Homo sapiens: one gene and its partner. The protein of the gene in region 1 interacts with the protein of each later gene in a pairwise test. Each region holds a gene or a part of one and is shown in the gene's direction. Other genes may lie near its edges.

Region 1 (5,462 bases):
CTTGGCTCACTGCAACCTCCGCCTCCCTGGCTCAAGTGATCTTTCCACCTCAGCGTCTCCAGTAGCTGGGGCTACAGGCATGTGCCACCATGCCTGTCTAATTTTTGTATTTTTTGTGGAGACAGGGTTTTGCCATGTTGCCCAGGCTGGTCTCGAACAGCTGGACTTAAGCAATCTGCCTGCTTCAGCCCCCCAAAGGGCCGGGATTACAGGTGTGAGCCACTGCTCCCAGCCTCCTAAGCTCTTTACATGTTAAACAGCAGCACTAGTTGAGTACCTCTTACCCAAAATGCTTTGGACCATATTATTGCGGATTTCTGACTTTTTCAGATTTTGGAATGTTTGCAATATACTTACCAGTTAAACCTTCCAATTCTGAAAATCCAAAATGCTCCAATGAGCATTTCCTTTGGGTGTCTTTTTGGCACTCAGAAAATTTCAGATTTGGGGTTTTCAGATTTAGGATGCTCAATCATGATGTAGTAATCATGACAGTGAGACACTTTAAAAATGTCATTGAAAAACAAAAACAAAAATAAGAAAAAAGAAAAAAATATATAATTGAAGATTTAAATTACATGCTTACCTGAGTTTCTTTCATAAGTCTGCTGTATACAACCTAGGAAATGCAAAAACTAAAATAAAAATCACCTATAACTCATTTACTTAGAGATAGACTCAATATTTTCATTTATTTCCTATTTTGTTTTACTGTGCAGATACATTTTAAACTTTTATGAATTTTAAGTTGAAAAACTAATACATGAACATATTCTTATTGCAAAAATTCAAACCTTATACGTAAAGCTGAAGGCCCCCAATGACTTCCATTCCTAGACTCAGTCCCTTTTGCAGAGATTCTGTGAGGAGTTTGGTATATATAGTATTTTCAAGATCTCTCTTTGTAGAAATAGGGTATTGTTTTATGGTGTTAAAAGAAATACTTATGTACAATTTACTTTTTTGTTTCTTTTGAACTAAACAGTAGGTTTCTTGGCTTGTGTTACAATGAAACTGCCATATAGTATTAAATAGCATTTTATACCGTAATTTGTTCAGTTTCTCCCCATTGTAAGATATTTTGAGTGTTTCCATTTTTTTGTTGTTGTTACTGCAATTTTACATTCTCACTTATGCCTATCCTCTCACATTTATTCATTCATTTAATAAACACTGATTTCTTGTCATATGCCAAGCACTGTTTGAGCAGTAAGAATAAGACTGAAAATTCAGGTTTATCACATCATGGAACTTATATTCTAGTGAGAGAAGATGGATATAAAAATTGAATATCAATTAGCAATAAATGCTTGGAAGAAAAATAAAGCAGAATAAGAGGATGTAAAGTGTTAGGAGGATGAGAGCTCCTTTCTTGAATACAGTAGACTAGGAATGGGCCTCTATAAGAAGGTGATACTTGAGCAACAAAGGGATGAACCATGTGAAGATGGTTTGAGAGCATTCCAGGTGGAGAGAACAGCAAATGTAAAGGACCTGATGAAAGAGTAGGCTGTTGGGTGGCAGGGGGAACAAGCAGGATACCAATGTAGCTGAAATAAAGTTGAGGAAAATATTAGAAGATGTTAGGAAATGAAAGTTGAGGAAAATGCCTAGAGGTGAACAGGAGCTAAAATATTTAGAGCCGTATAATTGAAATTACAGTAGCCACAAGCCACATGTGCTTTTTGAGCACTTGAAATGTGGCTAGTCTACATTGAGATATGCTTCAAGGATAAAATATACACTGGATTTCCAAAGACTTGTACAAAAAAAAAAAACTCAGTAACATTTTTGTTTAGTATATTTTGAAGTGGTAATAGTTTGGTTGTACAAGTTGAACATCACTAATCTGAAAATCTGAGGTCCAAAATGTAAACTTTCTGAGCATCACAATTGAAAATTTCACACATAAGTACTTAATACAAACTTTGTTTCATGCACAAAATTATTTTTTAAGTTGTATAAAATTACACATACAATTCAGGCTGTATGCATAAGGTATGTTTGAAATATAAATGAATTTTGTGTTTAAACTGTGTCCCATCCCCAGGATATCTCGTGTATGATAATATTCCAAAATTCAAAAAAAAAATCTGAAACACTTCTGGTCCCAAGCATTTCCTATAAAGGATATTCAATCTGTACATACTGAGTTAAATAGAATATATTAAAATTAGCCTGGTTTTTGTTTGATTGTTTGAGTCTCGCTCTGTCCCCCAGGCTGGAGTGCAGTGGTGCAGTCTTGGCTCACTGCAACCTCTACCTCCCGGGCTCAAGCAATTCTCCTGCCTCAGCCTCCTGAGTAGCTGGGATTACAGGCACCCGCCACCACAGCCGGCTAATTTTTGCATTTTTAATAGAGATAGGGTTTCACTATGTTGGTCAGGCTGGTCTCGAACTCCTGACCCTGATCCGCCCGCCTCAGCCCCCCAAAGTGCTGGGATTACAGGCGTGAGCCACCGCACCCGGCCCAAAATTAGCCTGTTTTTGTTTGTCAAAATGTGGCTACTGAAAAATTTTATACCTGGGTGGCTCATGTTTTTATTGAGCAGTGCTGGTCTAGAGCCTTAAAATCCATGCTAAAACTTTTCAGATGAATAGTAAGACAGTTTTAGGCAGGGGAAGGATATGATAAGGTTTGTGTTTTAAAAGAATCATTCCACTCTGGCTATTTTGTGCAGAAGAGGCAGTACAGAATTAAGAGTAAAATAAGAGAAACCAGTTAGGAGGCTATTGGAATAGCCTAGATAAGAAATGATAATGGTAAAGGTAATGAGAACTTTTGGGATAGTTTTTGAAGCTAGAGCCAAATTACCTTCCTAATGGTTTGGATAATGAGGTATGAGGGAAAGTGGAACCGAAGATGACCCCCAGGTTTTCAGCCTCAGCAGCTGGCTTGGACAATGATAATGTTTACTGAGTATTCAAGGGAATGGAGGTAGAAGAATAAAGAGTTTTGTCTTAGATATATTAATTATTTTTAATAAAGTAAATTTTTATTGAAATATAACATAGCGTACATAGCATATGAAACTGTCATTTTTAGAGTCCATCATTTTGGATACTATTTACACTTAGTGCCTTTGTTTCTTCTACGGGTAAGTATCATCTTCCACCAAGTATTACGATTCAGCATTTTAAGTCCTTAAAATAAAATGCCTTATCAAAATAATGTCTGTTAAATAATAGCTTTCTGTTATGGAAATAAAGCTGTTACACAGAGTATCTCTTTGGTATTTTTTGTGTCTATACCAGCATATCAGTAAAGGCTGTTGCTCAGAATCAGCAAGTACCCTCATATGTAAAATTGAATGTGCTTTTACTCAAAATGTAAATCTACCACATATACTATTTAACAATAGTTAAATAGTATATTAACTATATACTATTTAACAATAGTTAAATAGTATATTAACTATATACTATTCTTTTTCTTCTTACATGATTTTTGCTTCTTAAAAATCTCACATTTTAATCAGAACTCTCATTTTTGTTTTCTAGGAGCACAGGGATCAGTTGTCCTTGTTTTTTTTTGGTCTTTTCTTCATTTGAAGGTAATCTGCTTATTGAGTTCACTAATCATACAGAGTAAATACAATTTTCTGTTTGAGCTATTAATCTGTATTCCGGTTGATAAATAGAAAGTTGATTACATAATAATGGTTAAGGCTTAACTTTCAAGTCTTTTCTAATTGCTTCACAAAATGCAATCTAATCTCTAAAAAGAAAGCACTAATAATCCATGTGATTTACCTCATAGAAATAAATATCAAAATAAATTCAAACTATATTTCTAATATTGTTTCACAGAATTTTTTTTCCAGAAATTTGTGAAAGATCTTTGCTATTTTAGTCTGCTTGTCTGAAACTGTATTTTACTCACAGATTAAGTATTGGAGCCATGGGAATAAAGGTTCAACGTCCTCGATGTTTTTTTGACATTGCCATTAACAATCAACCTGGTAAGAATATTAGTTGACATTTATAAATGGGTGTTTAATATTTTAAATTAGTAAAGAAGTTTAACCAACTACCTTCTTTTTCAGCTGGAAGAGTTGTCTTTGAATTATTTTCTGATGTGTGCCCCAAAACATGCGAGAACTTTCGTTGTCTTTGTACAGGTTTGTTCACATTTTCAACTGCCCTAATAGTAGTCTCAGTTGACTATGGCTTGCTTGCTTGCTTGGTTTTTTTTTTTTTTTTTTTTTTTTTTTTGAGACAGGATCTTGCAACGTTGTCCAACTGGACTAGAACTCCTGGGCTCATCAATCCTTACACATAAGCGTCCTCAGCTGGGATACAGGTGTGAGCTACCACACCTGGCATAGCTTGCTTTAATTTTTTATTTACTCTATTTTAGATTTCTCCATGCATATTACTTTTCTCTTAACATGAAGATTACACAGCAGTGACTAGGGCGTGAAAGTAATTCTTAGAAATATTATGGCTGGGCAGCCAGGCGCAGTGGCTCATGTCTGTAATCCCAGCACTCTGGGAGGCCGAGGGGGGTGGCTCACGAGGTCAGGAGTTCCAGACGAGCCTGGCCAAGATGGTGAAACCCCATCTCTACTAAAAATACAAAAATTAGCCAAATGTGGTGGCGCACGCCTGTAGTCCCAGCTATTTGGGAGGCTGAGGAAGGAGAATCACTTGAACCCGAGAGGCAGAGGTTGCGGTGAGCCGAGATCGTGCCATTGCACTCCAGCCTGAGCTAGAAGAGCGAGACTCCATCTAAAAAAAAAAAAAGAAAGAAATATTATGGCTGGGCACGGTGTGGCTGGGCATGGTGGCTCACACCTGTAATCCCAGCACTTTGGGGGGCCGAGGTGGGTGGATCACTTGAGGTCAGTAGTTCAAGACAATCCTGTCCAACATGGTGAAACCCCATCTCTACTAAAAATGCAAATAATCGGCCAGGCGTGGTGGCTCACGCCTGTAACCCCAGCACTTTGGAAGGCCAAGGCAGGCAGATCACCTGATGTCAGGAGCTTGAGACCAGCCTGGCAAACATAGTGAAACCTCATCTCTACTGAAAAAATAAAAATTAGCCAGGCGTGGTAGTGGGTGCCTGTAATCCCAGCTACTCGGGAGGCTCAGACAGGAGAATCACTTGAACCCTAGATGGAGGTTGCAGTGAGCCAAGATCGCACCATTGCTCTCCAGCCTGGGCAACAAGAGTGAAACTCTGTCTCAAAAAAATAAATAACAAAAAATCAGCTGGGTATGGTGGTGTGTGCCTGTAGTCCCAGCTACTCTGGAGGATGAGGCGGGAGATTCGCTTGAGCCCAGGAGGCGGAGGTGGCAGTGAGCCAAGATCACTCCACTGCACTCCAGCCTGGGCGACAAGAGTGAGATCCTGTCTCAATTAAAAAAATAGAGGCCAAGTGTGGTGGCCCATGCCTGTAATCCCAGCAGTTTGGGAGGCCGAGGTGGGTGGATCACTTGAGGTCAGGAATTTTGAG
Region 2 (5,348 bases), on another chromosome or scaffold:
AAGGAGGTGGGGAGCCCTTCTGCTGTGTCCTTAGCTTACCTCTGTCCAGCCTGAATCCTGCAGATTGGAGGGCTGTTGGGGGAGAGGGGGATTGCAGTGGCCCCTCGGAAGGGGGAATCGTGGGAGAGGGAGGCAGGTGAATTGCGAGTGTTGCTTGCCACTTCATCTATTCTCTGGCCAGCTCGCCCGGGGCTTTCTTGCTCTTATGATGAGTTTGTGCATTATGCTCTCTGCAGACTGTTTTTGTTCTCTTTGACCCGAGGTAACAAACACATTATACAGCCCTACTCTGGAAGGGAAAACTCCCCACCTCACAATCTGTCATCGAGCTGGGTCATCCAGGACTGAGCTTTCTCTGTCCTGGATGGAGCGGAGGGCGGTGGCGGGGTGGGTGGGAGGGTTGGAGATGAGAGGGGATGGACAGAGACCTGGGGAGGGAGGTAGTGAATAAAAGAATTCAGGCCAGTGTAAAGAGAAAGACACGTGGAATGTCAGAGTCACGATACCAGGGCAGAACATTCTACTTTTTAATCTAAATATTTCTGCCATTAAAAAAAAATGTTTCAGCATATCCTGAGAGTGAAAAAAAAAGTGTGTAGGTACTTAAATAAAGTCTAATATATGTACAGGCAAGTACATATATTCAGATGCATAGATTTTTACAAAATGAACACACCCACGTATCCAGCACCCAGGTCCCGATCAGTGCCCTGGAAGTCCCCCTCCCCATACCGCCTCCTAGTTGCTCCCCCAACAAGGGTACCGCTCACCTGACTTCTAAGGTTCATTTTGCCTCTTTTAAACATGTAAATGGAGTCACACAGTACGTTCTTTTGCCACTGGCTTCTTTTGCTCACATCTGTGTATGTGACTCTACTACAATCTATCCATTCTACTGTTGATGGGCATTTGTGTCATTTCTGTTTGTGCCACTGGGAACATTCTTGTGTCTTCTATTATTTTTTTCCCACAGTTCTCTTAGATAGGAGTGGAATCGCCCCTGCTACTTTTTGATGCATGTGTTGTGGGATGTGTATTTGGAAATGGTGTTGACTAAGGGTTGCAGGTCGATATGGAAAGCAGGTTCCTCCCTGTCTTGTTTAAGAGAAGTGAGTGAATGATCCATGAACTTGTCGGTATGCTCACAGGGCCTAAGAGTGCTACTTCCAAATGTAAATTCTGGCATGGTACACTGGTGAAGGATGCAGTCTTGCTTTCTCCACACTCGGGGCAATTTGTCACTATGATTTCTTCCTCTTTCATCCCTCAGTGGGTCAAACTTGAAGCCATCAATGACAATTAAGAATCCTCATTTATTTCATTTTTTCCCCTCTTCCTAAGTGAGGAAACCCAAATGGAAGTCTTTGATGTTCAAATTTACATTGCCGTGTTTTTCTCATGCCAGGCAGCAAGCCGTCTTGACCACACACCTTGGTTTCATGTTTTCATTGACTGGAATTGTGATTCAAATAGGGCCATGAGGGTCTCTGATGATTGCCGAAGAGCTCAGATCTGTCAGCTCAAAAAGGAGCATCTGTCAGCCTTCCTAGAGTTCCCTCCCCACTTAATGCCACTCACTCCTTCTACCAAGTGCCAAGGTGAATGTCATCTTTCCAGCCCTCCCTGTGCCACCAGGTCTCCCACTGAACATGATGTAGAAACTCAGGCCATCGGAGGAACACTGGAAGCAGGTCAGTGTATTATCACGCACAGTTGCCTGAATTACACGTAGAATTCCAGCTTTTCATCCGGTTTGCAGAAATCTTAACAAGACACCTAAAGTCACATTGACATCAGGTGACATCACTTTGACATCTGTGGACATTGGCTGATTGGCACTCCTCTCATTTTTTTTTTTTTTTTTTTTTTTAAGAAAAGCTCTCTAAAGAGAAACTTTCTGCATGAGAAGCGCTGGGAGACATGGGAGCAGGTTATCAGACTCTTGGCCTGTCCTGAGAGATAGAATGTTCTAGAAGGTACTGCCGTAGAGGGCAGGATGGTGTCACTTACGTGATCCTTGTACTAGACCGGCTTGGCTGGTATTTCCAGAGGAGCAAAATTCTGCGAAGTAAAATTTAGCACGGCTTTTCCAATGGGAGTATTTTCAAAAAGGGTGCAATTTCTTATCCACAATTCCCCAATCCAAAAAGCTCCAAAAACCAAAAGACGAGCTCATATAGAGGTAAAACCTAACCTGAACTGACTTCAGTTTGAAGTCTTAATTTACAGTTTTCATTCATTCTACTTGGTGTGCATTTGAGTATGTTTTGCAGCAGAAATGTTAGATGTGCTTGATGATGAGGTGCTGCTTCAGCTCCTGACTGTTAGGTCTGCATTGTAGTCCTGTCAAACTTTCAGGTGTATGGAAGTTGTCTTGTTAACAGGATGGTTCTGGTCCAGCAGGATTTGGGTGGGGTCTGGGATTCTGCTTTTCTAGCTAGCTTCTAGGGATTCCCCATGTGGTAAGTTCATGGGCTAGGGTTGGAGTATCCAGGTTAGATCATAGAGACATCTTGTTATCATTTTTCTTTTCCTTAAAAATCAGGTTTATAGGGGCCGGGTCTGGTGGTTCACGCCTATAATCCCAGCACTTTGGGAGGCTGAGGCCGGTGGATCATGAGGTCAGGAGTTCGAGACCAGCCTGGCCAACATGGTGAAACCCCGTCTCTACTAAAAATACAAAAATTAGCCAGGCGTGGTATTGTGCGTCTATAATCCCAGCTACTCGGGAGGCTGGCAGGAGAATCATTTGAACCTGGGAGGCAGAGGTTGCAGTGAGCCGAGATTGCACCACTGTACTTTTTTTTGAGACTCTGTCTCAAAAAAAAAATAGATTTATTGATGTATAATTTATTTGTAGCAAAATTCACCCTTTTGACATACTGGTCTGCAAGCTTTGACAAATGGATGTAGTTGTGGCCACCACCCAAATCAAGATATGGGACAGTTTCATCAACCCTAAAATACCCCCACAGTGCCCCTCTTGAGTCAGCACCCCACTTCTCCAGCCCCTTCAACCACTGATCTGTTCTCCATCCCTACAGCTTTGCCTTTTGCCGAAGGTCATATAAATGTAATTTCACAGTATATAGCCTTTTGAATGTGGATTCTTTTACTCAGACTTTGAGATTCATTCATGCTGTTGCCTGTGACAGTAGCGCCTTCCTTTTTGGTGTTGAGCAGGATTCCATGATATGGATGGACCAGAGTTTGCTTCCCAGCCGAAGGACATTGGGATGCTTCCAGTTTCAATGATTATGAATAGAGCTGCTATAAACATTGGCTTATGGGTTTTAGTGGGAACATTTCATTTCATACATTTCATTTCTCTTGGGTAAATTAACCCAGGAGTGAGATTGCTGAGTTGTGTGGTAGGTGTATGTTTAATTTTATAAGAGGCTCTCAAACTGTTTTCCTAAGTGGTTGTACCATTTTACATTCCCATCTTTGCAATGCGTCTAAAAGCCCTGAGTTCTGAATTCCAAAGCACGTCTGGCCTCGATGGCTTAGGATTAAGGATGTGGATCTATGGAAAGGAGTGGAAGTAATAGTGTTAAATCCCGGTCAGAGAAATAAGAAAGATTAAGGATGTCATTCAAAGCTATGTGCCTGCACTAGAGAGAGAGAAAGAAGGGGTTCTCTTGGGTGGGGTTCCACCCCTCCCTGGTAGTTCTACCATTCCCCAGGAAAAAGTCAAGCTCTGAGGCTGTGAGACCCATGATCTTTACCCTGTTCTTCACCACTGCAACCCCAGTGTGTGGGACAAAGCAGGCGTCCTATAAACGTTTGCTGAGCAAATGAGAAAAGGTACCTGTCTTCACCCATTAACTAAATTGTATAACATCTATCTGATCTACCCTTGTGCCAACGTTTTAGGATTTTGATGGGTTTTAGTTGCAGGGGGTTGAGAGACTGTCCATGAGATTATCAGACCAATGAAAGTTTCTGAAATGTTAGTGCTTGAGTAGATTGGATGCAGCGGCCCCTTGAGAATGAAGTCTTTCTTCAGGGACTTGGAGTGGGAGGCATCTGTTGGGTGCGTAGGGCTTATGCTTCCCCCTCCCTGTTTCCCCCCCAGTAGCAAGCACACATATACACTTTCTCAGCAATAAAAAGCACCGCCGGGAAGGTGGACTCCATCCAGAAATGATCAGAGCCTAAGAGCCGTGCAGTAACGCATTTCCGAGAATGCCAGCTCAGCTCCTGAGAAAAGGGCCGGATGGGATGGTGCCTGCTCTGAAAGAGGGCAGAGAGGAGAGGGAAAACACTCCGGACTCTGGGTCAGACTGGCCCAGGTTCACATTATTCACCAGCCATGTTATCTTGGGCACCAGAGCCTATTTCTTGACATGCATGATGAGGATATTCCTTCTAGTAGCATCTCCCTTGGAGGGCTCTCAGGAGATTAAATGGGGTCGTGCGTGAAAAATGGCCAGCACAGTCTCCAGCACAGAGAAAAACCCCAAAACGCCAGAGCCGTAATACTATGGAGTCATTTAGGTTCCAGTGTTCTTTTTTTGGAAACCGGCCAGAAAAGAGGCTTTCTGGGTGGGAATGGGAGCGAAGTGCCCCCCCCCACCACCCCCTGCGACTGGTCAGTGTGGATTGATTAACCTGATCGTGGCGCTCTTTAAAGCCACCTTTGGACATTTTGCATTCTCCGTTCTCTCTGGAAGCTTTCAGGGGAAAAAAAATTCGTGGCCACTTGACCCATTTTTCTATTCCCTTGAGTCTAAGGTAAAAATTAATTCTCTTTCCTCCTTTGGTCCCTCCCTCTCTCTGTGGGTGACAAGGTGAGGGAGTTTTAAAGTATATAATTAGCTTCCCTCTTCCCCTTTTGCACTCCCTGTCTCTTCCTTTGGGGCCGGTCGAGAGTGCAGCCCAGGATGGCCACCCCAGGTGTCCACTGCAAACTCCACAGAAAAACTTTGCTCAACTTTTGGTTTAGAATTTAGGTACCCCCCTCCCCTTCCAAACTTTGGTCTTCTTTCTCCTCACTCCCTAAAAAAATAGGAAAAACAAGGAACATTCCTGGCGAGGGAACCATGAGTGGGCACAGCAACTTAGGTTTCAAAAACCACTGGGCCTCAGTTCTTATCTGAGTAGGGTGACCCTTCAGCCAGGGTTGCCTGGGACTATCCTGGGTTTAGCATCTCTGGAAACTCACAGTCCTGGGCAAACTGGGACGCTGGTCACCCTAATGGTGAGTTCTTAACACCTGAGAGAGAAGAATGGTGCAAGAGATGGTGCCGTTGACCAAGAAAGGGGGAGAGTCAGTTACTTATTCCCTCTGAAAAGCCAAGACTTTTTATTGGAATGAATGCAGCTTTTAGAAGCCGTCTTTAAGG

The links. Proteins that work in one complex are often made in the same cells at the same time.
Region 2: the proteins of PPIG (region 1) and CACNA1A interact in a two-hybrid assay, tested with the Homo sapiens proteins (one study listed by BioGRID and IntAct).

The regions. Positions count from the first base shown.
Region 1 is NC_000002.12:169,600,141-169,605,602, forward strand, and holds part of PPIG (peptidyl-prolyl cis-trans isomerase G), read left to right. Parts: intron 1-3,501; 5' UTR 3,502-3,554; intron 3,555-3,885; 5' UTR 3,886-3,901; coding exon 3,902-3,962; intron 3,963-4,046; coding exon 4,047-4,121; intron 4,122-5,462. UniProt on the Homo sapiens protein: PPIase that catalyzes the cis-trans isomerization of proline imidic peptide bonds in oligopeptides and may therefore assist protein folding. May be implicated in the folding, transport, and assembly of proteins.
Region 2 is NC_000019.10:13,498,680-13,504,027, reverse strand, and holds part of CACNA1A (voltage-dependent P/Q-type calcium channel subunit alpha-1A), read left to right. Parts: intron 1-5,348.